Homo sapiens: one gene and its partner. The protein of the gene in region 1 purifies or fractionates together with the protein of each later gene. This does not show direct contact. Each region holds a gene or a part of one and is shown on either strand. Other genes may lie near its edges.

The links.
Region 2: the proteins of ANXA2R (region 1) and CNOT6L purify together in Homo sapiens (affinity purification with mass spectrometry; one large-scale study listed by BioGRID and IntAct). This does not show direct contact.

The regions. Positions count from the first base shown.
Region 1 is NC_000005.10:43,038,871-43,041,810, reverse strand, and holds ANXA2R (annexin-2 receptor), read left to right. Parts: upstream 1-1,491; 5' UTR 1,492-1,764; coding exon 1,765-2,346; 3' UTR 2,347-2,440; downstream 2,441-2,940. UniProt on the Homo sapiens protein: May act as a receptor for annexin II on marrow stromal cells to induce osteoclast formation.
Region 2 is NC_000004.12:77,739,129-77,743,162, reverse strand, and holds part of CNOT6L (CCR4-NOT transcription complex subunit 6-like), read left to right. Parts: intron 1-843; coding exon of another isoform or gene 844-867; coding exon 868-1,022; intron 1,023-2,959; coding exon of another isoform or gene 2,960-3,055; intron 3,056-4,034. UniProt on the Homo sapiens protein: Has 3'-5' poly(A) exoribonuclease activity for synthetic poly(A) RNA substrate.

The DNA of each region.
Region 1 (2,940 bases):
TGGCCTCGGATTTCTAATCATAACAACCATGGGGTCAGCCTAGCCTCAAGTTTCTTAGTCCTAGCAAGTTCCGGTTTCCTACTGGTAAGACTTGCTTTAGCTGCGCAGGAAATGTTTAACTCCTGTGGAAATCTGGGTACCAGCGAATGCTTTTTTTTTTTTTTTAAAGGTTTAGCGATGACCAGTTTAGCAGTGTTGGGAGCTCTTATACCAAGTTTGGTTTCGCAATATCGAGTCCTGTCTTAGCTATGCTTGTGTGTTTTTAAAACTCCCGTGGAAGTCAGGAAATGCCGGCGATCGCGATGTCTCAGTTTTACCAAGCTCCCTTTGACAATAGCAAGTCCTGCCCATCGAGACTTTTTCCTCTTGTAGACCAAATCGGGATGTACCAGCTACTACGATTTTTTAGACGTAGCTAAACACGTTTAACCGTGGATATTTTTGTTTTTTTTCTCGTAGGAAATTATGACAGGAGCAACCTGCAGGGGTTTAGATCTGACAGAAATATTCTAATGGTAGGCATTGCATCGCTTAGCCATATTTGTAATTTCTTCTTTGTAGGGTTGGTTCTCTGTAACTTTTGCTTACCTTAAAATTATTTTTGTGTCTTGCTCTGAGGACAATGTTACCGATGTGTTTTTCATTTTTACTTGCATTTCAGACTTTCATTATTTTAAATTATGTATTTTTTTTTTCTTCTAATTTTGAGCGTCTCAGATTCGTGCTTCTTGACTTTCATTCTCTCAGGAGCCGGGGAGCCGAGCTCGGTCTTAGCCTCGCTGGTATCAGGTTCCGGGTTCTGTCTGGAGGCTCCGCTTCCTATGCAGAGCTGGCGGTTTTGTATCAGCACGTTTGCCAGTGGCGCCCACTGGGCGTTTTCTCAGTTGCTGCACCCAACGTGACATTTCCCGTTCGCGGGGTCCTTAGGTTCTCAGTGCTGTCACTTTTTCGCTCCTACAACCGCTAGTATCTCCTAGGAACTTCCTGAACCCCGTTTTGCCGTGCAGAACGGTGATTGCACCGAGCCGCTGTTCGCACTAGTAATTGTGTGGTACCATTAGCCGGCGCTTTTTCTGTCACAACCCATTAAAACGGGTTAAAACATATTAAACCTATCAAACACATTGAACGGATTAAAACACATTAAATGCCGCAACACATTTTTCTGGTACAACACATTGAAACAGAGTTGGTTCATTCCTCCAAACAGGTTGTTTAGGTGTGGAAGCACCGCTCTTAGTTCTAAGAGCATGCTGTTTCTCTTTAGCAGCACCCTTTACGGCGCCAAAACGGATATTTGTTTGGCAATACCAGCGCTATCCGCTAGGTGCCGGCGCTTGCTAAGTTCAACGCGCCAGTTTCTCGTTTGCAAGGTGGTTAGGGCAGAGCCCTAGCAGACAGTTTTCCGGTGGCAGCAACGCTCATTTCCCGGAAACGGGTGGTTCTTGGCCCTTGCGCGCTCTTGAATACCTGCGTTCTGTAGCGCTAGTTCTCTTCAAGATTTGCTTAGTGTCATTTCATTTCGGTTTCTTTTCTCGCCATGTTTTTCTGTCGGAATTACGGTTCGTTTTGGTTCTATGTACTCTCTAAAATGTTATCGTTTTTCATTTGTCTACTAATTTTCGTGCATTTGTTACTACTGAGTTTCTTAATATCTGACTGGCCTCCGCCCACGGGCTCTGCAGAGCATAAATACTCAGGCTGATGGTAGTGCAGAGACTCTCCCTCCTTGATCAGCGCAAACGTTGGTCTGAGGCTTGAGGGATGGAGCAACATTTTCTTGGCTGTGTGAAGCGGGCTTGGGATTCCGCAGAGGTGGCGCCAGAGCCCCAGCCTCCACCTATTGTGAGTTCAGAAGATCGTGGGCCGTGGCCTCTTCCTTTGTATCCAGTACTAGGAGAGTACTCACTGGACAGCTGTGATTTGGGACTGCTTTCCAGCCCTTGCTGGCGGCTGCCCGGAGTCTACTGGCAAAACGGACTCTCTCCTGGAGTCCAGAGCACCTTGGAACCAAGTACAGCGAAGCCCACTGAGTTCAGTTGGCCGGGGACACAGAAGCAGCAAGAGGCACCCGTAGAAGAGGTGGGGCAGGCAGAGGAACCCGACAGACTCAGGCTCCAGCAGCTTCCCTGGAGCAGTCCTCTCCATCCCTGGGACAGACAGCAGGACACCGAGGTCTGTGACAGCGGGTGCCTTTTGGAACGCCGCCATCCTCCTGCCCTCCAGCCGTGGCGCCACCTCCCGGGTTTCTCAGACTGCCTGGAGTGGATTCTTCGCGTTGGTTTTGCCGCGTTCTCTGTACTCTGGGCGTGCTGTTCACGGATCTGTGGAGCTAAGCAGCCTTAGATAGCAGCAGAAGGCTTTTTGGATTCTCCTCCTTGAAAAGATTCTCAGTTACCAAACGTCTCCACCTAGAAAATAAAAATACATTAAGATGTGCTTTCATTGCTGGTTGTCAGTTTTTAAATTCTCTTTTTCCCTTATGTTTCTTTCTTGTTTCGCGTCGCTTATTACTTTCAGTTTCCTTGTATTTTAAATATTTGTATTTATTTCATTAAATATTTCATTCGTATCTGTTTTCACTTTGAGAAATCTATTTTACGATTGTAGAATTCTTAGAGTTTTTGGCAAATTTAAAATTTGTTTTTTTCCATTGTATTTTAAAATCTTATTCCTACTATTTTTCTAATTATTGCTTTTTAAATGTATTGTTTGTTTACATTTAATTTTATATCATGTCTTTTACGTTATTATAACGTCTTTTTAATTTTAATTGTTAATTTTATTTTTAACAGCGGTCTTTCTTTTTTTCAGTATATCGATTCATTGTTTTACACTCAGGAATTTTATTCACGATCATAAGACTGAGAGGTTTATCAATCTTTGCTATTTCTCGTGGAAGGACCACGCAATTACTTATATTAATACAACTTCACAGAT
Region 2 (4,034 bases), on another chromosome or scaffold:
TTTCATGTCATAAGATAGTTGTGTTAAAACTTCTGGAGTATTTTTCTTCTATACATTAAGTAAAATATATTTACAGATACATTTTGATTCTTATTTATTGTACTTAATGGATTTTCCATGTTACTAAAATTCTTCAAAACTCATTAATTATATGAACGTATATTGATGTAGCTTTTCCCATACCATTGGACACATTTAGTTGTTTATGGGTTTTTGCTGTCATAAACTCATGCTGTTAGAAACATCTGCATACATAAATTATCTTCATATTTATTTCATTTAGAAAGACCTGTTAAAATATTTTATGAGTCAAAGAATAAAATAGACTAATAATTATTAAATTAATAGAGGCCATTGGATGATTGCGATTTAGGTACTTAAAAATTTCTTAAAGTAGAATTTTTTGTGGATAGATTTTACGTTTCTCACTCTTGGGTATCATTTCTTTCCACCATAGTTCAGAAGGATATGCAAGTTTTTAAATTACCTTTTTATATATAAATTACTATTCCCTATCACAGAATCTATCATATACCCAACTTGCTTTGTTTAGTTGCCAGTCTTGAGGAAGTAAAGTATAATGGAGTGAACTGTAAATTGGGAATCAAGAGACCTTGGGATGTAGTCCTACTCCTGTTACTATCTGTGTGAGCATGAGAAAATCATGTCACCTTTCTGGTTCTTTCATGTTTAAAAAGCTGCCATTGTCAAGTAGCAGCTGCTAGCAATCAGGTAAGATAGTAAGATAATATTTGCTATGTGAATTATTTTTACTAAGTTACATCTTACTCATAATGCTGAACATTTTTATATCTTAATCAGCATTTTCCCTCTGTCATATAGATGATAACTTTTCTTTCATCTCAGGAAGTGGAAACAGAGCAATACTTCACTCTCTTTCTGCCAGCATTGAAGGAGCGTGGATATGATGGATTTTTTTCTCCAAAGTCACGTGCCAAAATCATGTCTGAGCAGGAGAGAAAGCATGTAGATGGTTGTGCAATATTCTTCAAAACAGAAAAGTAAGTTAAGGAAACAAAGCACAATGGTGTACTTTTATTTATTTAAATGCTTACACTTTAAAATTGTCTTTGGTTTTGCCCTATAAAATCAACAGAAAGCTAGAAAACAAGTATTATGCAACTTAAAACTGTTGTTAATGTTTCATTTCTCAGGCTGTGTATTCGAAATAAGGATATTTATTGTATTATTCCTTATGCTTTTATTACCAAATAACACTGAACATTTTAAGAGATACAGACTTGAATGGTCTCATATTTCAGAACATATTTTCATGAAGTAAAGTATTAGTTTTTGTGTAAAAAAAGAAAGTGATACCTTTTAAGGTTGGCCATAAGTGATCTGGGTTTCTTTTCTGTGATTTTTTTTTAATAATTGATTTTTGAGAATCATTCATTTTAAAATCATTTATTCACTAAATGTATACTGAGCATTTGCTTTGTGATAAGTCCTGTGCTAGACACAACAGACACAAAGATAGTCAAGACATAGTTCCTAATCTCACTGAAAGCTCAAATCCAGTAGGAAAAACTAGGCATATAAGACAATTGCAATATCATATGGTGTAATATAAGATAGAGGTCTGCCTGGGTAGATAAGAGAGGCAGGCACAGAGCATATGGAGGTAGAGAGTTAAAAGGGTTGACTGAGACAGGGCAATGGAAAATGAAACGTGACATCTGATAGAGGTTGAATCCCATGGTTAATAGTTTGGATTTCATACGTTAGGAAATCATCTTACAGGATAAGCATATACATGCTTACAGCTGTTTTCCAGTATTTCCCCATTTTACATCTATTTTACCAAAGCCAATCTGTTTTTATTGATCCAAGCATATTACCAGCATGACATGCTATTTTAAGTAAACAAATTCAATGAATTTGAAAGATATTTGGTCCACTTCCCATTTATCTATGCCTACTTTCCTGTCTTTTCCATGAATTTGTAGTAGAGATATTCTTATTTTGGTTAATAATTAGTACAAAGCCTTGTAGTATTTGAGGTCAGAATATACTAAATTCTTCTAATGGTTTGGTAATTTTTTATGCATTTTAGAATAATTCTATTAAAACTACGTATCTCTTAACTACGGGAATATGTTCTGAGAAATGCATCATTAGGTGATTTTGTTGTTGTGGGAACATCATGAAGTGCACTTACACAAACCTAGATGGTACAGCACTATACACCTAGGCTATAAGGTATAGCCTGTTGTTCCCAGGCTAGAAACCTGTACAGCATGTTACTGTAGTAAATAGACAATTGTAATACAATGGCATTTGAGTCTAAACATATCTAGACGTAAAAAAGGTAATGTATTGTGCTGTGATGTTAAGACACCTACATCATCACTGGGTGATAGGAATTTTTCAGCTCCATTATAGTCTTGTGGGACTACCATCGGCATGTAGTCCCTTGTTGACTGAAATCTTGTTATATGGTATATGACCGTACTTCCAGAGTGTTTGCCATCTGTCAGCCTTTTCGAATTGTTTATATTAGTTGTCTTGTTCAAATTTTAAAGCAACTCTTACAGGCAGCTATACAGCTATTTCCTTGTTTTTAAAGATGAGGAAACCAAGGTACAGACAAGTTCAATAACTAGTTCCAGTTACACAGTCTGATTTCATAGTCCATGCTTTTAACTACTGTAATAAACTGAATCTTTAGCCTTCTTGTTTGAGCTTTTGATATCACTAATACCTCTTATAAGATTACCTCATTTAGAAAAATTGCCCTGAATTTGACATTTGTTTTTGTTTTTAGACAGGGTCTCAGAGTCTTACTCTGTCACCCAGGCTGGAGTGCAGTGGCGATCATGGCTCACTGCAGCCTCAACCTCCCCAGGCTCAGGTGATTCTGTCACCTCAGCACCCTGAGTAGCTGAGACTACACGTGCATGCCACCACACCTAACTAATTTTTGTATTTTTTGTAGAGATGGGGTCTTGCTGTGTTGCCCTAGGCTGGTTTTGAACTCCTGGGTCCAAGCAATCCACCCGCCTCAGCCTCCCACAGTGCTGGGATTACAGACGTAAGCCACCGTGCCTGACGATATTTGTTACCTATGTTCATACACAAATCCCCTTGAAACACCATAGCTTAAAAAAAAAATGCACCAGTAAACTTGAGACATCTAACATCAGGCTCTTTTTCTATTTGCTATAGTTTCTTTCAAGATAATATGGAAGATTTTTATTATTACTCTCACAGTTTTGAGAGGAAAAATCTAAAATTCCTTAACAATTTACTAGAAGTAGTTAAGGCTTTGAAATAACAGTTAGAACTGTTATCTGGGTATTTGCAAATTGATTCTTGAATTATTAAAAATGCTGTGAACTAGTTAAGTAATGAGCACATAGGAAGTACTTAGATGTGTCACCTGTTTTTCTTTTCTTCCTCAACTCTTTTTTCCTGAATAGTAACATGGATCTGGCAACAGATTGAATGTGATACATCAGTATATTGTACCTCTTTTCAACTTCTTTCCTGGAATGACAGGACTATATACCTCCTATAGGTAGAACAAAACCACCTTCTGTCCCAGTACCAGATATTTATCCATGTCTTAGCTGACTATTCAGTGCCAACTATTTGGAATTTAAAGTATTATACCCTGCCTTTATTCTTTCTTCAGACTGGAAATATAGGGCAAAAAAAGACTGTGAGTTTTGAAGCCAGGTGCTTCTTCTATTTATTTAGCTATATAATGTTGAAAGACTTAGCATTTCTGGACCTGTTTCTTCATTTGTATATTCTTATCTTGTAAGATCATTTTTGTAGAGGTTACAAAACTAACAAAGATAACTGTGGAAGAGTAGTCAACACTGTACTTACTCTCAGTCTCTTTCTTCTGTAATCAGAGTATCTGATAATTCCTCATCTTCACTGATGACTGTTTAATCATACATGAAAAACTGGTACAGAATACGCAACAATAAATGGAAACTATCATAATTGCCATTTATAGCAAAATACTATAATAAAAATCTCTAATCCATCATGATGAAAGG